Linked DNA regions of Homo sapiens: region 2 is linked to region 1. Evidence: fine-mapped expression QTL. A gene starts in region 1. The other region holds a variant in brackets. All regions are shown on one strand. Distances are from middle to middle.

Region 1 (15,893 bases):
GAGAGCAGTCACAGCCAGGGCAGCAGCGGGAAATGGCATGTGATACTGCAAGTGTAACTAGGTCACATTTCTGGGGTCGACCATCTCTCCCAGAGGGTGTCAAGGAACATCCCTGACTTGTGCCGATTTCCAGCCCCCATACAATGTGGGGATTGTACTTCTGCTTAGAGAGCTCTAAGAACAACCTGCAGACATAATGCAGGACCAAGTAGCCCCATGCAGATGAGCATAACTCGTCCCTGGCCTTATGAACTTTGTGATGCCAGGGTGGGATGCTGAATCAGCCCTCCAAAATCAGGAAAGGAGCTGTAGTCTGCAGGAAGAAGACTGGTTCTCCTCTCCCAGGAACCTGGGATCCTTGCCAGATTTGTGGCTCTAGCTGAGCCTCAAGAAATAGCAGGCAGGATTCATCACTGTTAATAATAACTGGCACATGACTGAGTGCAGAACTGAAACGCAGATGGCCAAGGAGCTGAGAGTGTCCTTAAAAGAGAAGGGACAAGTTTGGGTGAAGGAAAGGGTATCAGAGAGACAAACACACATGTATTTACACGTGATTTCGGGACATTCTACCATGCCCCCACCCCACCCCTTCATGATGCCCAACCCTGTAGCCCACCTGCCTGCCTCAGATGCTATCACTCACTCCTGGGTACAAAAGCCATCCAACCTTTTTCTGTATTAGGCGATTTCTCAAACCCTGACTCCTACCATGGAAAAACAATGTAGGTCTTCTCTGCAACAAGTGCTTTCAATTTCTCTTTTTACTTCCTGTTCACCTGAGACATTTCTGCAGCTGCCTTCCTCTTCCAGGTAGCTGAGTGTTCCAAACTCCTAATTAAGGGGCAACACCTAGACTTGGCTTTACCCTGCCTCAGCTCCTCAAGTGGCTTCCTCACAGAGTTCAGTTAAAGGTGCTAAGCCACAATGTCCAAAAATGAGAATGAAGCCAATATCCACTCAATGATTCTTTTGAATTGTGCCTGTTTGGATGCAAGGCCAACCGCATGGTCTCCAAGAATCCTCAGGGCAAAGGACCTCTGCCCCCACAGCTGGCATCAGGAAAATGGAATAAGCAGCCCCGATTTCAGCTGAGGACTGCTGCTCAAAGGGGTTTCCAGATCCTCTGAGCTGTGAATAAAGATGATTTTTTTTATAGGATAAATGAATGGAGAAAGATTTTCACAGGATAAAACAGAACCCTGGCTGGGCGCGGTGGCTCATGCCTGTAATCCCAGTACTTTGGGAGGTCGAAGCGGGTGGATCACTCAAGGTCAGGAGTTCAAGACCAGCCTGGCCAACATGGTGAAATCCCATCTCTACTAAAAATACAAAAATTAGCCTGGGGTGGTAGCACATGCCTCCTGAGTAGATGGTACTACAGGTGCATGCCCCAGTTACTCCAGAGGCTGAGGCAGGAGAATCACTTGAACCCGAGAGGCGAAGTTTGCAGTGACCCGAGGTCACGCCATTGGACTCCAGCCTGGGCAACAGAGTGAGACTCCTTCTGAAAGAGACAAAACAAAAAACAAAAACAGATCCCTTCTTTGCCGGATTCAATTCAAACTTAAGATTTAGAAGTGAGTTCAAATTTGAGTCTGACATAGTATCACTTCCCTTGACAAGTTAGGGAAAATTAAAATATTCTACAAAAAGAATAGAGGGAGATCAAGAAAGCAGGACAACCATGGGCAAAATGAGAAAGTAGACAAAACTGGGTTTCAGTGCCCGATGCCCTGTATGGTGCACCTGGCATTCCCTGGGGGAAACTGCCATTGGGATAAATAACCCAAGCCAACACAATGCCTGGTCAAAACTTACCTATTCTGTGTCCAGTGGAGATAAAGCATATTTTAAAGTGGCCATGAAATAGAGACACTCGAACTGTAATCAGGGACATCTAGGGACTTAATACTGTAAATCAAAGGCATGAACCTCAGAAACTATTTCAGGCAGCAAAGGGGATATTTAGAGACAAGGAGACTTTTCCAACTACCTCCAGATTTGATTCTCCTGTGATGAAACCCCAGTTCGCAGATTTGTGTCCCAACTTACCTTCCTTCTCTGGCCTTTTGCATTGTTCTCTCCACAATAAATTAACCTACGGACCATGGACATATAAGAAGTGCATCTGGCACATATGTTTATTGCAGCACTATTTACAATAGCAAAGACATGGAACCAACCCAAATGCCCATCAGTGATAGACTGGATAAAGAAAATGTAGCACATATACAGCATGGAATACTATGCAGCAATACCAAAGAGTGAGTTTATGTCCTTTGCAGGGACATGGATGAAGCTGGAAGCCATCATTCTCAGCAAACTAACACAGGAACAGAAAACCAAACACCTCATGTTCTCACTCATAAGTGGGAGTTGAACAATGAGAACACACGGACACAAGGAGGGGAACTTCACACACCGGGGCCTGTTGGGGGTGGGGCGCAAGGGGAGGGAGAGTATTAGGACAAATACCTAAAGCATGCGGGGCTTAAAACCTAGATGACGGGATGATAGGTGCAGCAAACCACCATTCACATTTATACCTGTGTAACAAACCTGCACATTCTGCACATGTATCCCAGAACTTAAAGAAAAAAAAAAAAAGAAGTGCATGTGGGCAAAAGTCTCTGAAACCCACTACTTTCCATGGTGGATCCAGTACATGAAGGTGAATGGAACCATGGAACCAGTTTCAAAGGGTTTCTGCAGGAAGAAGTGCATTTGCAGAGAAGCTTGTGAACAGCTTGCCAAATTTCAGCCTGGAAGAATTTTATTATCTTTAATTTACCAACCTAGAAATGGGCTTATAAGGGAAATTCTTAGCGATGTCTTCTTAGGCAACCACAGCAACTGCCACACACCTACCTCACTGCCCTGGAGCCTGCAGTACACTGTTACGTCCAAGTTCTGGCCTTTGACAAACTGAAGCTGGAACAACTGGAGCCTAACCTGCCTGCTCCACCCTGGAGTGCTCAGAGGAGAATGAATTAACTTCCGCCAGCCAACCCAGTAGTCCCAGTCCTGAGCCAGAAAGCAGTGGTTGTTAGAAAGAATGCAGAAAGCAAAGCCACAGTGCCTTCGTTATACTATTAAACTGTAATCACCTTTTTCTATAAGCATCTTCCTGTTTTCCCTGAAGGGGGATGGTTTAACTGCTGTCCTGGGGCAGAGGTGCCAACTCAGCAGAGAGACTTCCTGTGGGTCTGGGAGGCAGTTGTGTTCAGCAGGCTGTGGCATGCCCACTGACCAGAGGCAGGCTGTGAGGGGGCCCCCATCCTGACAGAGGGCCGGAGGCAGGAACTCAGAGACTAACTAAGGCTCCTGGCTTAAGGAATGATGTTGATTTCCTTTTCTCAGGGCCAGCACTAGGATGAGGCAAGCCAAGTGCTTAGGGAACAAGACTTAAGTAGCTGTTCACTCTCGGGTCCTGCAAGTAGCTCCTTCACCCTAGTGCCAGACCTACTCAGAGCCAACAACAGCACAGGTTGTGTGTGTGTGTACACAGACTGTGGAAGTCGGCAGTTCTCAAAGTGTAGTCCCGAGACCAGCATCATCAGCATCACCTGGGAACTTGTTAGAAATTCTCAGGCCCCCTGAATCAGACACTCAGGAAGTGGGGCCCAGCAATCTGTGTCTTACAAGCCCACCAGGTGATTCTGATGCAGCTGAGGTTTGAGAAGCCCCGTGCTGGAGGAGTGTGCTCTCCAAAGCCAGTCTCGTGGCATTTCTAAGGCCATCTCCCGCAATGCTTCCATACAGCCAGTATAGGGAAAGGGTGAGTGGCAAGATTACAGAGACTTTCCTAAAGCCATCAGCAAGATAGGAATCCCTCGAATAATAAATCAAGAATTGCTTTTTCCCAGCCACCCCTAAGTAGACTGTAGTAGTCAAGACTTGGCAATTGTTGGATAAAGATGGAGATTACTACTGAACCAGTTCCTTCCTGTTTCTTCCTAACTAGACACTCAGAGTTAGCCACTCAGTGACACTGTGATATGGACTAGCCATTTGAATATTCTATGGCTGAGATTCCTTCCTCTGTAAAACGGGTCCAACATCACCTACCTGTGAGGGTCAGAGAAGCTAATGTATGCAGAACCCTGAGTAGAAGCCTGGGGCAGAGTGAGCTGTGGTGACAGTTCATACATCTAACCAGGGGTTCCGGGCTCCATCCTCCCCCAGGGAGCGAGGTGGGAGGATCTGCGGCCTGAGGACAATTGAGTGGGGAAGGAGGTGAGCTGGTTTCATCTAGGGTACCATGTTTTTTAAAGAAGGCTATTTTCCAATCCAAATAGTCTGTGGGCATCAGGCTTCACTGGTGGTGACAAAAGAGAGAGAAAGGAAAGAAGGGACACCCAGTGCCGCCTGCCATTGGGTACTGAGAACCACACTTTAAAACAAAAAACAAAAAAAACTATATAAAGGCAAGATGACACTTCAGAAGACCCCACATTTAAACTTTGTCCTTGGGACCCAAACAGTATAGAGTAGTAAGACAATGACCACCAGTGAGACAGGGACCCCAGGCATTTGGCAGTGTACATGGTTTCTTTTGTCCAGGGCAGGATTACAAACAGGAGTGTGAGGATGAAATCATGCAGCAAAAAACACTGTCAGGGTCAAGGCAGACGTGATGTCTTAGCACTGACGTCCCATCACAGAATTGTGGAACCATTTCTGCAAAGCTGAAGGAGAACTAGTCCCATGCAACTTTTCCCAACTCACAGACATGTCTCCTGAGGACCAGAAAGGTTGCTGGCCTGCAGAGGCACACAGCTGGTGTGCCTGCAGAGGCCCACAGCGGAGAACAATCATTAGCTGTGCTCCGTTTCTCCCTTCCATTAAGGAGTGCTGGGGTGAGACGCAAATTTTAAGCTTCTACCCATAGGCCAGGTAAACAAAGGGCGGCCTCCCGCCCGCCCCGTTCCTGCCTCGGCCATCCCTTGCAGCACAGCTGAGGGCTTGAAGGAGGATCCATGACTCACACTTTTCTTGCCGCGGAGAATTAACTCCAAGATAACATTACCCATGTGGGAAAAAAAAGCAAGCCATCAAGGAAGAAAGTTCACTTCGCGCCCCTCTCCACCGAGCCTCCTTACCTTCCTCATTTAAAATCCACGGCAGAGAGGCCAACACGGAGTCAAAGCCGCAAGTGCTCTCTTCAAAGGCACAGGACCCAGCGGGCAGGTCGAGGGCACCGGCGAGCTGCAGGGCTGCGGGCACAAAGCGAGTTTCAGTTCGAGCTCCACCCAGGAGCCTTTGCACCAACTCGGGGAGCCCCAGGGGGACTACCTGGTGAAAGTGGGGGAAAGACGAGCGGGAGGGGGCGGGAGAGGGATGCAGTACCTGTCCCCCAGCATCCCCGGGCGCCTCCACTGAGCGACCCCACGCCCACCCCCACCCCCACCCCAGGCTTGGCCAGGGGAGGGAGTTAGCGGCTGCGGAGGATCAGGAGGCGCCCTCGGATGGCCCAGCCCAGCACGGTGAGCCGGACCCCCGGGGGCAGCAGGAGCGGGGGCGAGTCGTCAGAGCGCCCCCGGGGTTGTCCCGGGGTCCAGGCCTTACCTTGCAACGCCAGGAGGACGCCCCTTAACAGCATGGTCGCGTTTCAGGGAGGATGACTAGGAAGGGGTGCAAGTTGCCAGCCCGCTGGGACTGGCTGCTCCTAGTGAAAGGGATCGTGGGAGGCGGGGGCGCCGGGGACCCAAGGAGGGAGAAGTCGAGAGGCAAAGCTTGCGCTCTGAGCTGCCCAACTTTGCAGAGCGGCTCCCGGAGCCGAGCGGTATGCTGGAAGGTGCTCGAATGGAGAGCGCCAGCGCCCCGGCGCTGAGCAGCAGCCTCAGGTCAGACCGCGGCCCAGCTGGTCCTGGGCGACGATGGGGCTGGACAGGGAGGAGACAACTGCACACTTTGAAAGGCCAGCCACGACTGGCTGGGAGAGGAGAGGTCGGCCCGCAGTGCCTTCGCTCAGGATTTTAAAGCTTGGGACCAGAGCCCTTGCAGACACTTGGAAGGGGCAGGCCTTCCAGGAGTCCCTCCGCTGGGTTGGGACCCGAGGCTCCCGCCCCGCCCAGCCGCGGTGGGAACTCGCTTATTTCTGGGGACAGCTTCCCTGCATCTGGCATGTCAGTCCCGCAGGGCTGGCCCTAATTTTAACTTCTTCTCCCCAGAATGAAAGAGGGTGGAATTCTCCAAGGACAGCCTGGAGGAAAATTTGGAAACGGTTGGGTGGAATAAGCTTTATATCTAAGGAGTTTCAGCGTTTACGGTCCAGCAATGCTAACCCTGGAATACCACCCCCACTTTTTTTAGCCGGTGGAATGTCTGGCATGCCTGGTGCTCAGCATTCCCTCCGTCCGGTGAAATGGGGGCATTCCTTCTCTCCAAAGAGCCATGATAGATTGATTAATGGGAGGCTTTACACTGGGAGGGGGTTGTTGGGGAGGGAGTTACTTCTGAGGAAGCTGTTTGCTTTGGGCACTAAGTGGGTCTCCAACAATATTCTTTTCTTGTAAAGAGTTCTTCTTCCTCCCCTCCTCTTCCTCCTCCTCCTCCTCCTTTCTCCCATTTATAATTTTGTGCAGGCAATTTTGTGAGGAGGGCAGTGGTTTTAAAACCTGAGGGTGCATCAGAATCTGCTGAAGGGCCTCACCCTCCGTTTCCGATCCAGTAGCTCTGGAGTGGGCCTGAGAGGCTGCACGTCCCTAATAAGTTTCCAGAGGCTGCTGCTGCCGCAGCGGGTTTGGAACAATACTTTGAGGACCACTGGCCTAACAAACTCCAGTTGAGCCATCAGTTCAACCTGCTCCCATGCCTTCACCTGGCTTCCAGACCGCTGGGTTTCCTGGTCTTTCATTGGCCGCCGCTTCTCGGCCTCTTTGCGTTACCTCTGTAACCCCTTAACATGAGAGTGCCTCCAAGTTCTTCCCTGTCACTCCTGTTTCTTTCTCTATCCAGCCCCTCAATGCTGTCCTCAAGTCTCATAGTTTTAGATACCAATGATAGCCTGATAACTCCCACATTTATATTTCTAACCCAGACTACTCACTAACGCCAGACTCTTCGATCTCATTGCCACCTCAACATTTCCAATCGGATGCTTCAGAGCTATTTCATACTTAACAGGTCCCAACATGAAGGCTGCATATTTCTTGCCAAACCTGCCCGTCCCCTGTGTCTTCCTCATCTCAGTAAAAGAACTATTTTCCTCCAGTTGTTCAGGAGAGAAAACTTGGAGGCATCTTCAGCTCATCCGTTCCTGTCAGACATTGCCAATTTCTATCAGCTCAGGATTCAAAACACAGCAGATGCTGACCATGCTCTGTGCCCATGGTGGTGATGCCTTGGTTGGTCCAAGCTGCCCTTGCCATCAACCTGGGATACCGCAGTGGCCTCCTGACCACGGTCTCCCTTCATTTTCTGCCCTGCCCACCCTACTCTATTCTGAACACACTAGTCAGGGTTATCCTTTTAATACAGAAATTGGGCCATGTCACTCCTTAGCTCAAGACCCAACAAGTTCCCAAGTCATTTAGTAAAGTCCAAAGTCTTCACGATGACCAACCAGGCCCTATAGGACCTGCTCCACCCTTTTCTTTCTTTTCTTGCTTTCCTTCTTTTTCTTTTTTTGAGACAGAATCCCACCCTGTCACCAGGCTGGAGTGCGATCTCTGTTCACTGCAAAGTCCACCTCCCAGGTTCAAGCAATTCTCCTGCCTCAGCCTCCCAAGTAGCTGGGATTACAGGCGTGTGACACCACGCCCAGCTAATTTTTGTATTTTTAGTAGAGACAGGGTTTCACCATGTTGGCCAGGATGGTTTCAATCTCTTGACATCATGATCCACCTGCCTCGGACTCCCGAAGTGCTGCGATTACAGGCGTGAGCCACTGCACCCAGCCCCACCCTCTTATTTCTCTGACTTCAATCACCCTGCTTACTCTTCTCTAGCCACACAGACCTCTTGGCTGATCCTCAAACACAGTCCAGCTATCCTTTCAGAATTTTGCACTGGCTGTTCTTTCTGCTCAAAATGCTCTTCCACAAAGAGCCACACAACTCACCGCCTAATGAGGTCTTCACTCAGATGTCACTTTCAGTATTAGAAAATTAGTAACCTTCTCCCTAATAAGGAAAATATATCTGGAATCCTTTTTTAAAGGTAGGAACAAATTTTCATGTGTTTTCTGTAAACAATGATTCAAATGGTCAAAAATTTATTCATTAGTGTGTGCTATTTGGTGTATATGTATCTTTTTTTATTTATATGCTTTGCCTCAGGTAGTAGCTAATAATAACATTTATTGTGTTTACCATTATAAATGTTTTATGTAGATAATCTCATTTAAGCTTCACAAAATCTCTACAGGATAAATATGTTCATTATCCCCATTTAATAGATGGGGAAACTGAGGCACAGAGTTCAGTGACTGTGGACAGTAGAGACAAAACTCAAACCCAGATCTGCTTTATTCCAAAAGCCTATTTTCTCAACCAGTACAGGACTTCTCTCACTTGGGTCTTATATTCTTTTTTTTTTTGACTTCTTGATCACAGATGGTGCTAAATATCTGATGAATTTCATCACACTACTTAACTAAAAATTCAAAGACAGTTATACATTCAGTCGAAACCTCAAAACATTATTTTCAACTAAAGAAGTTTTCAGCAACAATCAAACTGGTGCTCCTTTTTCCAGATACTTAAGGAGTATTTCAAAGTTTTAGAATTGCCTTAGATTCATGTCGTATGTTCTAAGTCATAGGAAAATGAAAAACTTCAAAGCCCTAAAGAGATCCTTCCAAAATTTAAAATATGATTTACAACCTTAACGTGACATTGTGTATTGCCACCTATGGGAACAGAATCATACATAAGTACAAACTCAGACCAAATTTTCTATTTTGCATATAATTGTTTGATCCCAAGAATATATGATCCTTAGACATTGGCACAAGTTAGAATGTCTGGGAAGCAGACTCTGATTTGAAGTTTAATGTGCAGGGTGTTTAATCAGGAGTACCTTGGGATCAGTGCCATGGAAGGGAGGGAGAGGAAGCAGGAAAGGGTGGAGGGAGAATTGGAGTTGCAATGCAAATCCCACAAAGCTTCTTTCAATCCCCCAAGGAACTATGGAGTTAAAATGGCCTATCTAACTTGTCTCATGTTAGGCTGAAATGAAAGGGCATTTGTACTGCTGTCTCCATCTGTCACTGGTTGTGGCCTATGCTGGGACAGAAGTGATCTCCAGTGAGGCAGCTCTCTGCACTGGGGAGGATCAGAAGTTGAAGGCCGATGACAATACTCCAAGCCGCTGGGACTAAAAGTCATTTCTTGAAGGGGGATCTGGACAGCATAAAAATGCCTACCACAGACGTTTTGCAGAGAAAGGAAAAAATATTGTATGTGGCCTAAGTCAGGATGCAGGGAAAAAGACTGAGGAGGGAAGCCAGAGAATCTAGAAACTACGTCAACCAACTTCCTTTGGTCACTAATCATAGCACCCACATGGTACCCTCTTATTACTTGGGAAAACAGGATCAGGTCCCAAGGAACCCAGAATGCTATTCTCCAAGATTTAGCTTAAGCAACTGATCAAATAACACATATCAAGTTCTGGCTTACAGAAAGCACTCAGTACTTAGGTATTGTAATAGGTTGAATGGTGGCTCAAAAGATACATCCGTATCCCAGAATCTGCAAATGTGACCTCATTTGGAAAAAGGGACTTTGCTAATTTAATTAAGTTAGGGATCTTGGGATGAGATCATCCTGTATTACCAGGTGGGCCCTAAATCAATGGCAAGTATCCTTATAAGAGTCAGAAGAAAAGGCACAGACACATGTAGGAAATGGTCACGTAAAGATGGAGATGGCATGTAAAGAGATTGGAGTGATGCAGCCCCAAGCCAAGGAATAACAAATTCTCCCCTAGAGCCCCAGAAGACTGTATTCTGCAGACACCTTGATTTGGGGCTTCTGGCCTCTGAAACTGTGAGTGAATAGCTTTCTGTTCTTTTAAGCCACCCGGTTTGTAGTAATTTGTTCTGGCAACCATAGAAAACTAATATAGAGTGCATTAAGTAAACACATGCCAGGCACTTAACATGCATTATCTCATTTAATCCATGCAATATCCCTATGAGGTGAATATCATTATTGTCCCCATTTTATAGACTAGGAGACAGGACCAGAGGGGGTCAATTAACCTGCTCAAAGTCACACGTCCAGCCAGCATGCAGCAAGGATTTGATCCCAGATGCCCACTTCTCCTGGCTATCCACTATGCTGCCCCTAAATGCTTCCTCCTTACACAGGCCTGTCTCTCCTAATGAGGGCTGCCTACACCACACACAGACACTATGCCCTGCTCTCTCTGTGGGTTCCTGTATGATGCTCACCTCTCACAGAGCCTGCCCATCCTCTCTGCTCTTTGCCAATCTGTTCCTTGCGCCCTCCAGGTACCTTTCACCAGGGGCTCTGCTCCTTGTTGTACCACTTCTAGCCTGGAGATCACCAAGTTCTTGCTTCTAATTTTCTGGGTCAAGGTGAGGAAGATGAAGCATTGCTGCTCCTCTCTATCCAGTGTCTTCCCACATAGCCAGGTGAGGCATTGGGGGGTGTGAGCAAATCTGTGGGAAGAAAGCAAGAAAGCCAGCATTTATGATTGCACCTTTGACTGCACTACAGAGGTTAGCCAATCTCAGAGTCTGTCTTTACTGCCCACTTTCCCTTCTGTTTTCTTTCTCTCCTTGTTAGTCTCACGCAGTGTCATGCCATGATAAGCTCAGCAAACATTTCCTGAGCACCTACTGTGAGCCAGACACTATGCTAGGGGCTGGAAATCCAGGGGTCAAGAAGACACATCCTCTGCTGCTGAGACAGGAGACTGACCCATGAGACAATAATTTCAATAAAATATGTGGATGAGATAGAATTAAGGCTGCAAATATAAAAAGTCTAGAGGCCAAGGAAGTCACGTAAATGAATGGAGTGATCTGGTAACACGGAAGAAATAGGGAGGGATGGAGACTGTGGTTAACTGGAGTAAGTAAGTCCAACTAAAGGGCATTACAGAAACCATCTCTACCCCAACTGCTCATGTTTCAAAAGAAGCCCAATATTCAGATATGTATATAACAACTCCTGATTTTCAGATGCCATTCCATTCCATTCCATTCCATTCCATTCCGTTGCATTCCATTCCATTCCTTTCCATTCCAATCCACTCATGTTGATTCCATTCCATTCTATTGCATTCAAGGCCACTTCATTCCATTCCATTCCAATCCATTCTTTTCGGATCCATTCAGTTTAAATGCATTCCATTCCTTTCCACTCCATTCCATTCCATTCCATTCCATTCCATTCCATTCCATTCCATTCCATTCCATTCCATTCCTCTCGAGTTGATTCCATTCCATTCTATTGCATTCCATTCCATTCCATTCCATTCCATTCCATTCCATTCCATTCCATTCCATTCCATTCCATGCCACTAGAGTTGATTCCATTCCATTCTCTTGCATTCCATTCCATTCCATTCCATTCCATTCCATTCCATTCCATTCCATTCCACTCGAGTTGATTCCATTCCATTCTATTGCATTCCATTCAATTCCATTCCATTCCAAGAAATTAAAACAATATACTCAAATCCCCATGGGGTAGAACAAAATCTATTGGGAGGTTAAATTCAATTCTTGAGCTGAAGTTTGCAGCATTATGATAGAACCACGGAGACAGAGAGTAGGGTGACTCCCTCCTCACTCCTCCAGAGGAGGTAGCCAGGCACACGGGAGCAATGCCATTCTACAGTAGAGCAAATGGAGGCAGAAAAAGTCTAGGTGACTTTTAACCAAGGCTGTATGTCTCTAGGGCAGTGGTGGGATGAGAAGCCATTAATTATCTCACCTCCTAGTTGGCCAGTATTTGGAAACATGGAAAGGACTTTGTATATTCTAGGTCTTGCACAGATGTAAGGTAATTAATAATAAAATTAGTAACATCTTTTGTAGTTATTATACCTTGTTGCATTCTCATTTATCTCATATATATAATCTGTTTTTCTTAATACCTGGGTCTCCTTTAATCTATGCCAAGTCATTGTCTCTGGATTTTTGTCTTTGTTTCTGCCTTTCTCTCTCACTGTCTGATGTACTTTGTATGGGCTCACCTCTATCTCTGTCACTCTACACTGAGTGGTTTTTTTTTTGTTTTGTTTTTGTTTTTGAGACGGAGTCTCGCTCTGTCGCCCAGACTGGAGTGCGGTGGCACAATCTCCGCTCACTGTAAGCTCCGCCTCCCAGGTTGACGCCGCCGTTCTCCTGCCTGAGCCTCCCGCGGAGCTGGGACTACAGGCGCCCGCCACCGCGCCCGGCTAATTTTTTTTTTTTTTTTTTTTTTTTGTAGTTTTAGTAGAGACGGGGTTTCACTGTGGTCTTGATCTCCTGACATCGTGATGCGCCCGCCTCGGCCTCCCAAAGTGCTGGGATTACAGGCGTGAGCCACCGCGCCTGGCCTACACTCAGTGTTTTTAAAAAAATCTTTGACATGTTTATTGGAATTACATTAAATGTGTACATTGATTTATAAAGATTGATATATTTACCTTGGTCCATTGATATAAATTTTTGTGTTTTCCAGTAAACTTTTAAAAATATCTTCATGTGAATTTTACCAACTTTATTCTAATTTTATTCAGAAGAAAAGACCAAATATGCACTCCTGCAGTCAGTGGTCTGTGTTGCTTCCATGTCGTCTCTCTCTCTCTGCATACACCCAACAGGCCCCCACTCATTACACACAATCAGGCTAAAACGAGATGGCAAAATCATTCCAGGCTCTGGGCTTGTCCTGCCAGTGACCTCCGTAGTTGCATTCCAGCAGGAGGTAACTGAAGGCTCTGCCCCGAGGCCAGCGATGGTCCTTGGTTACTGTCCAGCACTGTTGGCCTCTTACTCCCAAAGAGCAGTCATGTGCCTGCTACGGATTTGAATCATCTCCCATGATGCACCAAGACCCAAGGGACAATCAGTCCTTACAAATCTCCTTTTATTACAAAATATATAGCCCACTGTTCAAACTGCCACAGTCAAATGACTGAACCCATAAAGTAGGTACATCTTCTAGAGTGAGCATTTTAAAGGAAATAGATACTTCAATAGATGCTTTCTATCATTAATCTTTTCTTCATCAGCTTACTCCGGATCCTAGCTGGGAGTCAGACATCCTTCATTACAGCTTGAATGCAACCTTCTAATTTTTTTTAAATTGAGGTTTTCTGGGCTGACCAGTCACAGTGATAATACTACCATGTTTTGTTAAGTGTCTGTGATGTGCCAGGTGGTTTCATGGTAAATTCATGGAGGAAGAAACTAGGCTCAGAGATTTGATGTGACTTGCTCAAAAGTACAGGGCTGGGGCGGGAGCCAGCTCAAGCTCCTACCAAAGCCCTTATAACCTCAATGCCATCCACCCAACACAGGGAAGGTGTGAGCAGAACTTTGAAATGTCTGGTTCCCAGGTCCCCGGCCTCCTACCTCTACCCACAGGCAGTGCTGAGGCCAGGAAGACCAGGGGCTTGGAGAGGGGCGTCAAACAGATTCACCCACAGCCCTCAAAAGGAACAATCCCCGACACCAGTGCCACTGATCTTGGTCTTCTGGCCTCCAAAACAGTGAGATAATAAAAATTTCTGTTGTTTAAGCCATCTGGTTTGTGGTACTTAGTTACTACAAACTAATATATTTCTATTCATTTCTCAAGACCCAGTTCAAATGGCCCCTCTCCTATGTTGTTGGTGTGCCTGTGCTGCAGCATGTATGATGCTGTGTCCTAGGCTGTGCAGGCTGCTATAACAACGTATCATACACTGGGTGGCTTATCAACAGCCAAAATGTATTTCTCAATTCTGGTGGCTGGGTGTTGGGTAAGGGCCTGATTCTTCACAGATAACTATTTCCTCACTGTATCCTCACATGGCAGAAGAGGCAAGGGTCTCTCTTGGGCCTCTTTTATAAGGGTGCTAAATCCTATTTATGATGGCTCTGCCCGCATGACCTAATCACCTCCCAAAGGTCCCCACTTCTAATGCCATCGTTTCATGGGTGAGGATTCCAGCATATGAATTTGGGGCAGACATAAACATTCATGCCACAGAACGCTGTATGACAATGACTTTGTCTATGTCTCTGTGTTCTGCGATAGAGACTGAGTTTCAAGGGTAGAAAGCAGAGCAAGTGTGTTTTATCTTTGTATCTGCTCCTGTGCTATCTCTATACATGGCTAATTGTAGTCGCTCAAAAGATGTTTGTTGAAGGAAAGTCTAAGGAATAGCATATCCTCATTGGTCCACATGGCCCAAGAACCAGCCTAAGCTGCAGTCCTATGAGTAGAAGAAAAAGAACTACATTTAAATTACCCAGGGGAATATGTATAAAAATGAAATCACAGGTGTGTTCTGGGAGCACAGAGCCAATCTGAAGAGGAGCAACAGACTGAACAGGGAGTAAAAGCAGGCTTGCGGGGGTCAGGGCAGCACATTTGGCAAACCGGAGAAAGGCAGACTCTCAAAAATCCACTTTCCTGAGAGGCAGATGAGGCCACAGAGAGAGAACTTAACCTCTGGAAGGAAGTGCCAGGCCTTGGATGTTGGAGGGAAATAGAGACTATGAAACAGCTTGGATCCTGCCACCTGAGTCTGTCCCAGCCCAGCTCCATGGTCTCCTATCTGAGTCCAAGAGTAACGCCAGGCTGTTGGGAAAGCCAGAAAAATCTGTTTCCCTAAATCTCTAAAAAAACACTGGGCCACAAATGGCTCTACAACCTGCATTAATAAGGATTGTGACAGTATTAAAATGAAAGCAGGTGAGCAGCAGTGCCATGCCCCGCTTTGCTACCAACAACCATGACTTTGGCATTTCAGAGGTCATTGCAGTGAGAATGGGCAGCATCGTGGCTGTGTCAGAGGTACAGGCTGGTTTGTGTGCACACATGTTCACCCCTAGGACACCCCCCAGATCCCAGGCGCTAACACTCTGTGTTGCCTATTAGGGTTAAGAGTGAGGAAGAGCACACCAGAATTTGACATATTCTAGCTAATGGTGGCTCCAGAGACTAGGGAGGCCCATGAGCAATTTAGGCTAAACCCAGGTGGTATGCTTTCTCCTTTACAAGTTTTGTTTGAGTGCTTTGGCATGGAAACAGGAAAAATAAAGCATTCTGTAGCCAAAAACATTTCCAAGAACAGCAATGAAACCCCAGCTTAGCTTCTGATTCATAATCTCTGACATATTCATCCGTTAGAGTGGGGATCCACACACAGTGATTTGATTGACATGAACACGGATGGGGTGATATTCATAATAAAGGCCTTGGCACTGAGAGACAGAATGGACACCAACTGGGAGGATGACAGATAGTGAATGTCAGCTCTGAACAGGTGTGTGGGGTGTGTGCATGGTGTGCAAAGACACAATAGCATTGAGAAGCTGAGTCACAGGCTTACTGCTAAATCTGGAGGCCTGAAATGCAAACAGGTAGAACACTGGAGACTTAAAAGATGTCAAATGACACTAATTCTTTCCAATTTTCCCAGTACGCAAGGCCCAAACAATTGGTGATAATGAAGAAACTCTACTACCAGACGTTGCGGGATGCCTCAATGACCTAATCCAGTAAATCACAGCTCCAGCTGTCCATGAGCTCTGTCTACCATCTGAGGAATTGTTTCTTTTTAATACAAAGACTGGCACTCATCAGATAATAATTTCTGGGATAGAAGCAAAGTATTGGTATTTCTTTAAGTCTCTTGAAGGTGATTCTACTGAGCTGGGATTAAGAACACACTGCCTTAATCCTTTCATCATCAACAAAATTAAATACTGT
Region 2 (15,893 bases), 52 kb after region 1:
TGGCTGCCTCCTGATCTTACAATGAATCCTTTTAGGCAACATTCTTGAAAAAGAGGAGATTCAGCGATGATGTAGAATCACAGAATTCTGAAACTGGAAAGGGCCCTAGAGAATAAAAGTGGGCAGCTGCATTGCAGCTTTGTTTCACTCTGTATACAAAGTAAACCATCCAGGCTAAGTGACATGCAGAGAATGAGCCTTGAGTGGGCAGGAGGACTATTTGGGTCTAGCTCTAATTTTTCAGCCAGGCAGCTGAGGACTATGAACAAATCTCTTAACCTTTGGTTAACTCTCAGTGACCCGCTGCTTAGCCTTGAGCAAAGCATTTAATCTTCAGCTTTCTCATCTGGAAAATGAAGGGTTGCATTAGATAATCTCAAGGGCCTCTTTCAACTGGGAACATTCTGTCCTTTCTTGATGCCACGCCCAAAACTAAAACAGTGTGTATTTCTCTCAACTGCCTGCTTCAATTGCCCATTAACTTAAGAAAATTCAACATAGACAAAAATCTGGAATTTTAAAAGAAATAATTTAGGGGATTTGTATTTGTGATATAAAAGTACCCTTTCCCTTACAGACATAAATTTCCTTTAAATAATTAACTATTAAATATGTTTTTACTTTATGACAATTAGATTTTCACACAACTTTTCAGGAATGCATGTTTGATAGCAAGTCAAGTGTACCCTCTAATAATTACCACCCTTGATTTTACTATGTTTCTCCCACTCCGAACTCATGTTTCTAGTCTTAGCAATTGTATTAATCCATTTTGCATTGCCATGACAGAATATCTGAGGCTGGGTAATTTACAAAGTAAAGAGAATTATTGGTCTCACGGTTCTGCAAACCATGCAAGAAGTATGGTGTCAGCATCTGATTCTGGTGAGGCCTCAGGAAGTTTACAATCATGGTAGAAGATGAAGCAGTAGTAGGCATGTCATGTGGCAAGAGAGGGAGAAAAATTGAGAGGAGGAGGTGCCAGACTCATTTTTTAACAATCAGATCTCATGGTAATTAATGGAGTGAGAACTCACTCATTACCGCAGGAAGGCACGGAGCCATTCATGAGGGATCTACTCCCATGACCCAAATACCTCCCACCAAGCCCCACCCCCAATACTGAGGATCACATTTCAACATGAGATTTGGAGGGTACAGATATCCAAATGATATCAACAAGCTCTCACCATAACTTTTTATCATTTACAATTTCTTATATACTTTCCATCTCACTTTCTCCTGAGTCACGTAGCTCAGCATCATTTTCTTCTGCATTGACTGCATCCTTTTTTTTCTTGCTTATTATCTTTTTCTCCTACCTTATTATGTTTCCACTGGCTCTTGTAGCTCATCCTGGAATTCCATGGAGTTCACTATGGGACATCTGTTCACTCTGAATGTCTAATTTAAGCTTGTCTTGTCTGTTCAGGCAGCTACAACAAAATACTGCATACTGGGTGGCTTACAAACAGTAGAAATTTATTTCTGACAGTTCTGGAGGGGCTGGGAAGTCCAAAATCAAGATGCTGGCAGATTCAGGGTCTGGTGAGGGCCTGCTTCCTAGTTCATAGATGCTTCCTTCTCACTGTGTCCTCTCCTGGTGAAAGGGACAAGGCTGCTCTCTGGAACCTCTTTCAGAAGGGCACTAATCCCATTCATGAAGATTCCACCCCCATGACTAATTACCTCCCAAAGGTCCCATCTCCTCATACCATCACCTTGGGGGTTAGGACTTTAACGTATGAGTTTTGGGGTAGCATAGACATTCAGACCACAGCAAAACTCAACATCAAAATGAGCTCTGCTCCTTTAATCTATATCATTGCTGCTGTTGTGAAACTCAAGTGAAGCTCCTCTCCACAATTTAACACTGAAGTTCAACCCATTCCTTGTTTTCTTCTGAGTTTCAATAGATGAAATAAACACTTTCTATATCCATAGGTAATACATGTCTTTACATCGTCACTGAGACAAATTAGCAATTTTATGAACAAGAAAAATAGGATTTCTCACTTGGATATATTGAATATATTAAGTACTTTGGAGAAAAGTGCTATAAAACTCTAGAATGTTATCATTGATTTGTTGTCAAGGAGAAAACAATGCTGTTCTTAATTAACTTCTCAAAAAATGTGCAGCATTCCTAAAAGAGAAAAGAGATCCATTTTCCATGAGAGGTCTCAATACTTCAAAAGCCCTACTAGAAATGTATCTCTTGATTCTGAATCTATTAAAGGGGTATATTCTACATTTTGTCACACAGGTGAAGGTCCTCAGAAATTTTTACATCTAAGTTCTGCGGGGTTTGGTTTTTATGTACCCACACCACAGTGTCACTTGTCAGGCCATTTTCATAGCAGAAATCCCATTTTAAGGTAGGAAGTTGATTCAGTATGGAAATAAAATGTATCATTTTTTTTCCATTAAAAGTGGACATCTACTTCTAGGATTTACTTAACTTGAAATAAGGCTGCAGTCTGTGGTGTCATTCCTAATACGACATTTCCAGCATTTTCTCAAAGTGTTAAGGTTTAACTCTCATACCAGCTTGCAAGGATCATTAAATTTAAAGTGGGAAGGCCCCTACAAAATTATCCAATAATTCCCACTCATTGTATAGATGAGAAAGCTAAGGCCCACAGAGACTAAACAACTTTCCCAGAGTCACACAGGAAAGACAAAAACTCAAATGTCTGGAATCTTAGACCAGCGCTTCCTTCCCCAATTCCTTTCCAGGATTCCATTTTGATTTTGGTCTCAGTTGTAACTTTTATGTCAGCAATTCAAGAGCTCTTATGTTCTAATAAGATAGCCTAGTGGATGGCTGTGGCAACAGAGAATAACAGGCACATACATGTTTAAAGAGACAGCACCCTGATATAGGTCCAAGAGCAATGAGGTAGGTCTCTGAAACTCAAGGTTCTTTCTATTCATGGGTTGCCATGATCAAGTTGTTTAGCCTCGCTGGGTCCGACTGTCCTCAGCTGGAAAATAGAAAGCTAAGGAAGAGATCAAATGAAATAGGGTAGGTGGAAGCAGCTGGCACATATCTGTGTTCAATAATATTTGTTCAGTCTGAATTGACCTGATAATTCAGGCACCCAAGGGCAGCATGGGACCTAGAAAATCACTTTAATCCTGATTCCTTTTCTCAACAAATTATTCCAATGCACCCATTCAGTTAAGAAATATTTATTAAGCACCTACTATGTGCCAGCCAGGCACTGTGCTTGGTTCAAGGATAAAATGGTAACAGAAAGACATGGCTATTTTACAGATTGGTAGAAGAGACAGAGAACTAAGCCGCAACGACCTGCTGTGATGACACAGCACAGAGGAGGGGACCTTAACCCAAACCAAGCAGATGTGGGGATGCTCCTCAGAGGAAACCACCTGTGAGCTGAGACTCACAAATAAGGAAGAGTTACCCAGATGGAGGACTAGGAAGAGCATTCCAGGAAGATAAAATACAACATGAAGATCCAGAGGCAAGAGAGTTTAATACTCTAGAGGAAATGAAAGAAATTGATTATGTTGTGATTAGAATGTGAGGGTGGGAGCTGGAGAAGAGACTGGGGCCAGGTCTTACAAGCCACTTTAATGCACTTGAAGCTTATCCTAAGAGCAATAGAAAATTTCAAAGACTTGTAAGTAACAAAGTGAAACAATTATATAAATGGTTTTCTTGATGAGGAATCAGATTTTTTTTAATTTTGAGGGTTTCTTATTGACATAATTATATCTATGCATATTCATTTCCATATTTAAATAACTCCTTCTCATTTGCCCCAAATTCATGTAAAGCATTTCTCAAATTATATCCACCACCATTGGACCTTCACCTTTTAAACAAAAATTACTAGACAAATTGCTTACTTTGTATTCAAAATGACAGCAGGGTCCATAATTACAAGTGACCAGTCAATCAGGATGAAAAAATCCTTAGGAAATAAATGCATGCACTGCAAAACTACAGTTAAAACTTTCAGCATTCAAATGAAGAAGAAAAGGCAGGAATGATTGGGATAGGAAACCAAAGAATAAACAGATGAAAGAAAATGTGAAAATATATTCTAAACAGTGAGCCTATTAAAATCACCACACCCAGCCAATTTGCAAGAGGCAGGCAGTTCTGAAAAGCTGGAGCACCATGAATTAGCTTTGCCAGATAAACTAGGTCTTGCCAAGCAAACTGGGACCTCAGCGGAAAAAAGATAAATTTGTGTTTGCCAGGAGTGATGCCATGACCAACAAACTTTTCCGAAACCTCAGCCTAGAATTTGGCTCTGCCAGTGCACCCAGTGGTGAATCAAGACCTATCCCCTCTGCATTTGGGGGCCAGGAGGGAGCATTACACTTATGTATCAGAAACCTCTGTGAATGGGAGAGCCTGGCCTAATTTCAGTTGGGGTTTGTTTTCCATTATAAAAATCCATGAGCTATTATACTTTCTAGCCAGCTTTATTTGAACATCTTCTACACACTTAACAACCTATAAAGCAAATAGAAATAGTAATCATTTGCAGCAATAGAGTATTTTTCCCTCTAAAAGCCCAAAGCTTCCGATTTTGAGCACAGCATTCTTTGGGGAAAGCACTTCTCTCAAGCTGAAGATTTTATTTTGTCAAATTAAAGGATTTATGGTCCACAAACAATGGGGTTGGTAGCAGATGTAGGAGAAAGAGTTGAACATCAAGAGGCCTTCGGGGTTAGAAATATGATGGCTGTTTTAGGAGATGGGAATAAGGAAAGTAGAAAAGCTCTTTGCAATTTCTGTTAAATTCTAACTTTTAGCACTTAGTTGCTTAATTGCATACATTATACACAACTTTTTAACATTATGCATAAAGCACAAGTTTATTGCCCCCAAATTTGGAACATATAGATAAAAAAGAGAAAATATAATTCCACCACTAAAATAGAATCTCTGCTAATACTTTTGTATCTATCTCTCCAAATTTATTGCTTTAGCTCTCACTTTCTCTTTACACATAACTATGCATTCACAGCCTCATTTTTATGATATGTACATTTATATATCCATACATATGTTAAAATAGGATCATACTTCACATACTATTTCTGAATCTTTTTATTCTTAACAATTGTGAACATTGCCCCTTGGGCTAGAAGCTTGATGAAGGTTGGGATTTTGCTTGTTCTTATGCATTGCTGTTTTCTTTTTCTTTTTTTTCCTGGTCTTTTTTTATTTTTTAATTTCAGTAGCTTTTGGGGTACAAGTGGGTTTTGATTACGTGGATGAATTGTATAGTGGTGAAGTCTGAGATTTTAGTGCACCCATCACCCGAGTAGTGTACATTGTACCAAATACGTAGTTTTTTATCCTTCATCCCCCTCACTCTCCCCCTTTCTGAGTCTCCATAGTCCATTATACCACTTTGTATGCCTTTGTGTACCCATAGCTTAGCTTCTACTTATCAGTGAGTTTTGGTTTTCCATTCCTGATTTACTTCACTTAGAATAAAGGCTTCCAGCTCCATCCAATTTGCTGTAAAATACATTAATTCATTCCTTTTTTAAGGCTGAGTATTATTCTGTGATGTACATAGACCACATTTTTAAAATCCAATCATTGGTGGATGAACACTTAGGCTGGTTCCGTATCTTTGCCACTGTGAACAGTGCTTCAATAAACATATGCTTGCAGGTGTCTGTGCTGTTTTCTTAGCATTTAGGCTAGTAACCTTCCTATGGTGGATACTCAATATCTATTGACTGAATGGATAACTATTCAGTCATATAACCTTCCTATGGTAGATACTCAGTAAATGTCTATTGATTGGATGAATATAGTTTCATACGAGTCAAGTATAAATATTTATGCATGTGGTATATCAATATATAATACAGTATAAATAAACACACAAATACAATTAGTGTCCTAGTTCTGGCATCTGTATGCGCTAATCCTAACCACCCCAGGTCAAACGCTGCCCTTCTATCAAACCCTCCTCAGGCTTCCCTCTGGCTCTCTCCTTCCTCCTCTCAGTGCTTCCTCAGACTTCCATAGAATATTCTTTACTTCTTTTTGGCACTTAGCACTTTCCATCTTGCTTTATACATATTTAGTCCATGTTCCTCTGTCTTGATACAGTGCAGCTTCAGGGTGGCATCTTTGTTCAGTTTATATTTGTAATAATAACAAAACATAATTCTATGTATGTATTATTTAATGTGTGTCAGGGACTATACTAAGTGTTATATGTCCATTATAACCTTTAATATTCTAAATAATCCCATAAAATTGGTATGATTATCTTCATCTTATAGATGAGTTATCCGAGCCTTAGAAAGCCAAAGTGACTTGCCCAAGGCAGAGATGAGCCTCATGCTCAAGGCTGTCTGATTCCAGAATCTGTGCTTTGGATCCACTATCTCCACAGCCTCCTTGCCTATCATCTCCCACTCCCAAGTCATTTGCAACAGTGCCTTGTGTAGATGGTAGTAGATGTCCAATGAATTCTTGTTGAATGAATAAATGAAACATAGATAACAATTGAGCATGTGTTGGTTACTAATGGAAGTGTAAATCCTGAGACTGAGATGTTTATGTAGCTTGGTGTGGGGTCTCAGAGGGAAGTAAAAGCACAGATTTGGGGAAATAGTCCAAAGTGGTTCATGGAATTTTCTCCTATTTGATAGCCAGGAGACATGAGCACAGTGAGTCTTTGTCTAGACAAAATTCAAGACAATTTGGAAGGAGATGCCAGTCCAAACACAAGTAAGAACTTGATGGGAAAAATGGTGCTTCTTCAGAAGGGCTGATGTGGTTGGGAGTAATAATTGAATAAATAAAAAATTGGGGACTTAGAATAGGAAAAGTGAAAGTGAGAGTTAAATTAACAAATAATTAGAAATGAGAACATTGGGATAGTGTCAAAAGGAAGGGAAATACAGGGAAAATTCTAGAATCTTGAAGTAGTCAAAAGAAACTTGCCACACTATCAGAATGAGTCTTCATTCACTATAAAAAAATGGAGGGATTGACATTGTAACAATTTTCTTTCCAGCCCCGCTAGCTTTGAAACTATAGCAGACACTTCCAGAGCTCCACCTGTATCCCCTTGGCCCTTACTAGTC[G/A]GTCTGACTTCAGGAGACCAGCACCTGCCTGCCTCTGCCTGGAGCCCACGTGGGTCACAAACCCAAAGGGTGAGAGCATTAAGCCAAGCAGCCCTCAACCACTCACTGGCAGGAGCTGGTGGGTAAATACCCCAGACCCCTTGCCACTCTGATAGAATAACTTGGAGGTACACATTGCACACTACCTCCCAGAGCTCCCCAGAGAGAATAGACTTCATTGCCCCGTGGGAAATTGCTTGATACATATATTTTCTATTGGCTCCTTTATCTTCCCTGTTTCACTTTCTCAATACTCCATCAGTATGTCCTGGGATCACTTCCCAAATAAATTACTTGCCCTGAAATCCTTGTCCGAGAGCCCTGATTCTGTAGGAGGAAGCAGGACACTCTTTAGGAGCAGAACATATACATAGATGCCCCTTACATCTCTGCCTTCTCCCATATGGCAGCTCCCCATTTAGGAATGTTAGCGGAGAAAGGCAGTTAAGAGACCAAAGTCTTGACAATACAGAATGTGAAATCATTTCAGAGTTTGATTCCCTCCTTTTAAAAAGACAAGCCAAAATTAAGTAAGCCCTATGTTTCAGAGCCCCAGCCCCAACACATTTTCCCAAAGCTTTTTTAAAAATGTAGGTCTGCAACTAAATGATATACAGAAAAACCCAATGGTCATATAAGTTTAGGAACTGTTGGGTTAAACAAAGTCAAGATTTTTACAGCAGGAATTTTTCTGACCTTTTGTATGCTAATGAGGTACTCAACATAGCCAAAAGGGGGTTACAGTATGGACCATCAACCAGATTATTTGTTCATGAACCTCTGAAGGGGCCAGCGGGCCACAGAACACACAGAAGGAAACCCTGCCTACCTCCAAAATAATCCATAGATAGCCCATTTACAGTTCAGTCTTGTCTCTCAATTCAGCCCCAACTGCAACCACCCTTTCCTCTTTCTGCCTCCATCTGTGGCCCAGGCTTCAAAACAAAAAGTTCTCAGAATTCTTGAAACTTCTTTGCATGCTGCCTGGAATACCATCTTCCACTTTCACACCTGGTGAAATCCTCTTGGTTGATCTTTCCAAATCCACACAGAGATTACTTGCTTTGAGCAAGTTTCCTCAACAACCCTCTTATTCACCTTTGTGTTCCCATGATTTTGCACAGGACCTAGAACCTACATAGCAGATACTTGTGTGAATGAATTAAAGGAGCATGTGAGTGAAATGAGGTATAAAGAAGTGACGTTGGACAAATCATTTATTTGAGTTCAAAGCAAGGAATAGAATGTGGTCCTCTCATTCATAGCCCACGTTCATCCTCTCTCCACATCCCAGAAATCAAAGATGTTATTTGGAGAATTTGATGATTCTTTTTAAAAGTTGTGGTAAAATGTACATAACATAAATTTTACCTTCTTAATCATTTTAAGGGGACAATTCAGTAATATTAAGTACACTCACATTGCTATGCAAACAATCTCCAGAACTCTTCATGTTTCAAAGCTGAAACTGTGTATACACTGAACGACAACTTTCCGTTTTCTTCTCCCCCAACCCCTGACAACCACCATTGTACTTTCTGTCTCTAATCTGACTACTCTCGGTACCTCACATCAGTGGAATTATACAGTGTTTGTCTTTTTATGACTGGCTTATTTCATTTAGCATAATGCCCTCAAGATTCATCCATGGTGTTGCACATACCAGAACTTCCTTTCTTTTTTAAGACTGAATAATATTCCATTATATGTGTATCCCACATTCTGTTTATCCATTCATCCATTGATGGGCACTTGGGTTGCTTCCACCTTTTGGCTATTGTCAATAGTGCTGCTAGGAAGATGGCTGTACAAATATCTCTTCAAGACCCTGATTTCAACTTTTTGTGTGTGTTTGGTGACTCTTTTTGGAGCACACTGAAGTTTTAACATTTTCCTTTACAATCAGAAGGGTGCTAAATAATAACCTAAACTCATGCTTGGTTAGCTATTGCCAGAAGCATAAAACCAGCAATTACAAAACACTGTGTCAGTTAGGACTTTTTGATTACCTGTGACAGAAAACAACTTGCAACAGCCAATGAGGAGATTTATTGGAAAGGTTTGATGATATCTTGTGGTACCCAATGAAGTGTCAACCCCACAAGAAGAAAGGCACTCCTGGGCCTTAGGAACAGCTGGAACCATGTGCCCTCTGGATCCTCCATCTCAACATCTCCTCTGTGCTTGCCTGCTCCATTTTTCTCACTGCACACTGGCTCTACCTAGAAGAAAAATGGCATCCAACTCCCCTTACTTTTGCATCTGTGGCTACAGCCTCATAAAGAGACTGGACCAATTCTTTCTCAGTCCCAAATCCAATATCTCATGGAAAAGACTCATTGTCCCTATTTTTGTTAAGCTCCCATTCTACCAATGTTGTCTCTAGGAAGGCATAGTCAAATTGTACAAAACGGCTGCTCCCAGTTCCAGGGGATTGATATGCATATTGGGGAGGGCAGGCAGGTACCAAAATGTCACAAGTACTGAATGACCATAAGTCTACCAGTGCCTCAGTAGAAGGACCACAGGATGGAAGGCAGTGGGGTGAGAAAGTCTCCAAACACCCACATCCCTGATGAACACTCCCATGAGGTAAAAGGGAAGGGATTTTGCAGGCAGCAGTGAGTTCTGGAGTAGAAAAACACATTAATCAAAATCCTGTCTCATCAACTAAATGAATCCACAGATAATGAGGCAGGGAAAAGGCCTGCTAGCCCTGAGATCTCTTTAGACAAGGTTTTTGTGTCATGTGGCAAGTCCAGCAAGAGACCTGAGAAAAGGAAAAGGAAAATTAGGGTTCCCACATTATCAAGCAAGGCCAGAGGCCAAAATTAAAAGGAAATAATAATGACATCCAGAAAGATCCTGGACTGTAACATTTCCAGGAGAGAACACCCAGGCTCAGGTACCTCTGAGACATCTTATGCGATAATGAGTTGGAGAAATGCAGCTGGTCACAGGAAGTGGAAAGAATAGACTAAAACTATTGCTAGGAATCAAAGCTAAACCCCACATCACTAAAGCCCTGTCTCTAGTAAAACGTTTCTCCTGTTTGTTCATTGATTCTGAATGTTAAGTAAGTCTTTCCGGCAGTGGTTCCAGGGTGCTGAAGCAATGACTCTCAGACAGCAAATGAAAAATGAGGGCTGCAAAGTTCAGGCAATAATAGAAAATTAAATCTTAACTGAGCTGCTGTAAATATCACAACCAGAAAACAGAGTGCATCAGCAAACTGCGCTGGCAGGGAGGGTAATGAATTTCTCCTCTCCGGGCAAAATTTATCAGTGGTGCATAATAGAGTATTCTCGGGTTTGGAGGTGAGGAAGGGGTTGATGAGGAAAGAGGGAGAAAGAAAAACAAGCGATATTTGTAAATTAAAGTATCTCAGCCAAAGCCAACAGCCCAGCTCAAATGACCCTTCTATAGTAACTCACCTAATGCAAACTTCCACAGCCCATAAGCTGTATCTCTTGCACTGCACTCAGCATTTTAGGTTATCTGTAGTTATTTGTAGATATGTTTTATCTCCACAATGAGATTATGAACCCCTGGAAGGCAAGGGAGAGGAATTGTTTCCTTTATCCATCTTCATGTACCCCACCACATCCAGAAGAACTAGTATTTATTGACTCTTTCAACGTGCGATGCACCGTGTGAGATATTGTAGTGTCATATTCCCATGAGGTCCTTCCAAATACCCTGCAAGGTGAGGAGGACTATCACATGATACCAAAGAGGAGACTGGGGCTCAGAGAGGTAAGTAATTTGCTCCAATTCACACCATGACAGAGCTGAGATTTGAACTTAAGTCTACTGAATTCCAAAACCTATATTCTTTCCTACTCGATATACTACCCAGTTGGCAAATAGCGATCCTATTTTCCAATATGCATGCTGATTTCTCCAAACCACATCCTGTGGCAGATGTTGTACATATATTATCTCAATTACTCTTCACCACAGCCCAGGAGTTTGGTAGCATTATTAGCCCTATCTCGCCAATGAGAAAACTGAGGCACAGAAAGGTTGACAAAATCATCTAAAAATCGAATGGCTTATAGTAAGTGGTTGCATGAAGATGCTGACCCACCCTGCCAGACTCCAGAGTGTGTGCTCTTAGTCATCATCCTATGTTGATTTCAAAATAAAAAATAAACACACACACACACACACACACACACACACATCCCACATCACATGTTTTGAGCAACTCCTTTGTGCTAGGCTAGGCAAATTTTGTAATTTAACCCTTATTACCATCCTCATAGCAGAAGCAAGTATTCAATAAAATATAAAATTAATGAATAATGGAAGATAAAAATAGAGGTGCAACTGTTATCAATTGCTAAATTAAAAAAAAAAATCCAGAGACTCCTCTGTGTTTGCATTGGTAACACTATTGGCCACAAGCTATGGAGGACCAGGGGAAATAAATGAGTATTAGAAACGAAGACAAATAAGGGCAATCCAGACAATAGAAAGGAAAGGTTTTCACTTGAAAAATGAGTGTTCTATAAAATCAATAATGGCCCATCCTAAATGAGACAGGTCTCCTTTGTTGCAATAGCATCTTAAATGAACTGTTAGAAAATCAGCATTTACAAATAAAACAACAGAAATCTCCAAGTTAGACTCAATTTTATATCAAAAACATAACCCTGTTAAGTGGATGACAAATCTTCTACAGGCTACATCCAGATGAATTAGATAATGATAATGGTAGCCTTAGAAGAGTAGAGGGACTCAGACAAAAAATAACAATGCCCTGTAATCCCAGCACTTTGGGAGGCCGAGGCAGGTGGATCACTTGAGGTCAGGAGTTCGAGATCAGCCTGGCCAACATGATGAAACCCTGTCTCTACTAAAAATACAAAAATTAGCCAGGTGTGGTGGCACATGCCTGTAGTTCCAGCTACTTGGGAGGCTGAGGCAGGGGAATGGCTTGAACCCAGGAAGTGGAGGTTGCACTGAGCTGAGATCACACCATTGCACTCAAGCCTGGGCAACAGAGCGATACTCCATCTCAAAAATAAATAAATAAATAAAACAATGCCTTGGTTCTACTCTGGCTTTTCCAGCTTTCTCAGTCATTTGTGTTCTCCACCAGTTGTTTCTCTGCCACCCTAGAGGTAAGCATGGCCATAGAACTCAGTTGGGCCAATGAAGTACGACCAGCAGTGATGTGTCACTTTCAGGCAGAAGCTTAAAGAATCAGTGCATGTGCATGGTTTGCAATGCTTTCTCTTCTTTTGTCATGATGACGGATGATATTCTAGAAGGCATTTGTCTGTCACCCTGCATCACCGAGTATAGATGACAAAGAGCAGAGCCCCATGCTAAGCCACAGAGGAAACTACATGAATGAGGGGGAAAAATGTTGTTTTAAGCTACTGAGATTATTGTTGTTTATTATTGCAGCATAACAGCCCAATCTGATCAAAATATGAACCTCTAACCCTGGGTAAGTCATTTTATCTGAGTAGGTATCAGCGTCCTCATCTGCAAACCAAAGGAATTTGCCTAAAAGAGGGGTCATTAATCTGGGAACCCATGAGTGGGCTTCACAATGACAATGAATCAAAAAAAGGTAAGAGTGTGTATACATGTGGATGCGTGAATGAGAAAGAGAAAGGGTGCCATGGCATGTGCCTGTAGTCCCAGATACTTGAGAGACTGGGGCAGGAGAATTGCTGAAGCCCAGGAGTTCAAGAACAGCCCAGGAAACTATAGTGAGACCCTGTCTCTATTTTTTAAAAAGAGAGAGAAAGATAACAAGCAAGACAAAATACACATTTTTCTTGAGAGAGGGTTTATAGCTTCTTCAAATTTTAAGAGGGTCTGTGTTATTAAAATTAGGTTGAGAGCCTGAATAATCTTTAAGGCCATTTCCAGCTCTAATGTGCTTTGTGGCTTCTATAGCAGGAAAAAAAGTAGTTAATTAGGTTCCTCTATGATCTGGTATTTCAGGACTTGCCTTGGGTCAGATTTTATTAAGGTTGTTTTCCAATAATTGCGTTTAAGAGTTACGCTTAACAGAATTACAAATATCAAAATCTCAGGAGGTATTCCTGAGTAAAAACAGGGGATTCAGAGTAATTCTTTTAACCGAAGAAGGAGAGGTTCTTCAACAATTGAAAACAAAGACCCAGATTCCATTTGGCAGGTAGGATAGAGCTGGATCGACTCTTCATAGAAAGAAGGGGGCACTCCTCCAAAAGCATGTCCCCACACATGCGCGAGTGTGTGAAAGGCCAGAGTGTAATACTTCAGCTGAAGGCCATGGGCTCTTTTTAACATGAAGGCAGTGGGGTAGACACAGTTCATAGAGAGAGCCTGAGTTTTATGATGGGCATCTGCAATCTGAGTTCAAGCCCAGAGTTACGAGAGTATTTCAACATGCTGTTGGGCTGGTTTTCTCATCTATAAAATAGGGACAATAATATTCAGCTCTAAACGGAAGAGTCTCTGCAGCAAATAGATACTACATGCAAGGTTATTGAGGAGAGTTTCATGAGGGACTATTTACAAAGGTGTGCACAGAGTTAAGAGAAACCAGTGAGGCGTGCTGAAGCCTCTGGGACTGGTTAAAGCAGAGAGCCTTTTATCATTCCCACAGCTGAAGGAGCAAGAGAAAGAAGGGTTACTTTAAAAAGGAGAGAGCCATAGCTGGAGCTATAGGAAAGGGCTACACAAAAGAGCCCTGGCCTTCCAAGAGAAACAGATACAGCTCCTCTTGGCCCAGCAGGGAGACAGCCAGAGGGGAAAACACTTTGATCATTTTCTCTTCTCATCCTCCCGCTGGTGCCTCACCTTGGCCAAACCCAAGCAAAAAGCAATGGGCAAGGGAGCCTGTTGACATGGTCATAAAAGTCAGTCTCCTGTGGCAGAGAAGGATGGAGAAGGGTGGGGAGAGGATGTGGAGAAGAAATGAGCATTTGAGCCTATAGAATGCTGAAGTAGGCTTGGCCATGCCATATCACTATTGGTCAAAGCCCATCTCTGCTCTTTGTAACCAAGCATCTTGCCAGGCACAGCTGATGAATTCTAGTTCCTTCATAATCTGAATCTGACTTCCTTTCCATCGTAGTGCCCACTGTTCACTTTCATCTACTCTGCAGAATTACTATGGGAAAAACACATTTATGTACATTATCACTAATCCTCTTAACAACTCATCAGGTAAGCATTATTTTCCCATTTTCATGAAAGAATAAAAGCTCAAATAAGTGGATTTCCCTTACCCACCATCACAGACCTGCTATGCTGAAGAACAATAATTCAAATCCAGATCTATTGGACTTCAAGGTCCACATTCTTGTCCTATCCCACCCTGCAAGGCTTTTAGTCCTAGCTTTGATTCTAATTATTTTGTACCCTTCATAAGTCTCTCACCTTTCTGGGCCTTTTGCTGTTTTATGAGAATGATTTAATTGTACCTTTCCATGATATTGTTGGGACAAGATGAATGTAGTTTCCAATGACTGTGAAACTATCTACCTGTTTCTATTCTTTGTGAATCTTGCAATGATTACTTTTTTTTTAAATGAGACCCAAGCATTTTCTTTGATTTGGAATTGGAAATGTGTCTGCCTACTCTTAAGTCAACAGAAAGCCCCAGAGAGAGGAGTTTCTAGCTATCTATCTATCCTATCTGTCTACGCATTTGCAGATTTCTTTCTACATCTGCTCTCCGAGACCTCAGAAGCATCTTCTCCTTACAAATTGCTGCCAAAATGTCCTCTACATTAATAGTAAGTTTCTGGAGTCACCATCATCATTAGCCTATGATATTTAAGGCTAGTTTAGTTGCACATTCTAAGCTCTAAAGTAGTCAGAAACCTAGAAAAAGGAGTCTATTTTTTCCTATTTCCTGGATCCCAAGTGTGTTCAGGTGGCTAACATCAAGCAGGAGAAAGGCAAGCTTCTGTGACCCAGGAGCTGAGCTGCATCAGAGAACCATCCTTCTTTCTAGAACAAAATCTTAAATCAAGCAACCCTACAGCACAGGCCCTTCCCCCACCCCTGAAGTATAGGTTTTCATCTTAGACAAAGGAAATAATTGGATTCCTGTACTGAGCTCTGTGATCTACTGCTGCCAGCTGCATCACTGTAAAACCATTAACTCCTTGCTGAGCATTTTATCTCTGCAACAGGAAGAGGTAAAAAGGAGATACACATTGTTTAGGCCAAGTGAAAGGAGAATATTTTTTAAGTGGTGCAGTGTAGATCCCAGTAACATGGCATCCATTTCAACCAGCCTGAAATTATGGACAAGCTTTAAGGATGAAAGCCAGAGAAATTGGAAGAGAGCAGATTTCTGCCTTCAAGAGCAACCCGTACATCACCCAGGGGTTGTAGGGCGTCTAGAATTCCAGCATGAGCTGCGTTTTTCCCTCCCTTTGACTCTTGGCTTCCACATTCTTCTCTAATAGGTCATAGCCCTTCAAGTGAGAAATGAAGCCAGTCACTCCACTTCCTCTGACTGCGTTTGTGCCTCTATGCACTGGGGCTTTAAATGTTCATGAGATCCTCTCTCAGTGCAATGTCAATTAAACACCTATAGCTGGAACAGTAGGGGCTGGAAAAATGCCAAGGCAGATACAACTGAGACTCCGTCCGGAGAAGCCTTCAACAGAGCACTTGGAATTAATTCATAAGAAAAGGTTATAGGTAAATGAAAAATACTGACTGACAAATAGGAGTAACTTGAATCTACCCCTCCCTGGGAACCATGCAACAGGAACCCTCAC

The links. PIP is the estimated chance that this variant, and not a neighbour inherited with it, causes the effect.
Region 2: its variant is fine-mapped to the expression of MAMDC2 in lung (TOPMed, PIP above 0.99). The same link has a PIP of 0.9 or more in fibroblasts.

The regions. Positions count from the first base shown.
Region 1 is chr9:70,033,910-70,049,802 of GRCh38, reverse strand. MAMDC2 (MAM domain containing 2) reads right to left here and starts at 5,955. Exons shown (of 14, transcript NM_153267.5): 1 at 5,572-5,955; 2 at 5,106-5,219. The coding sequence starts at 5,605. It overlaps LOC124902179 (a long non-coding RNA gene), which reads left to right and starts at 5,762. Exons shown (of 2, transcript XR_007061571.1): 1 at 5,762-5,849; 2 at 15,604-15,893. RefSeq lists a silencer at 5,676-5,970 and an enhancer at 10,976-11,493.
Region 2 is chr9:69,981,558-69,997,450 of GRCh38, reverse strand. No RefSeq gene overlaps it. Among named protein-coding and RNA genes, the nearest start is that of MAMDC2, 54 kb to the left of the region's middle. The variant G/A (reference allele first, on the strand shown) is at 7,105.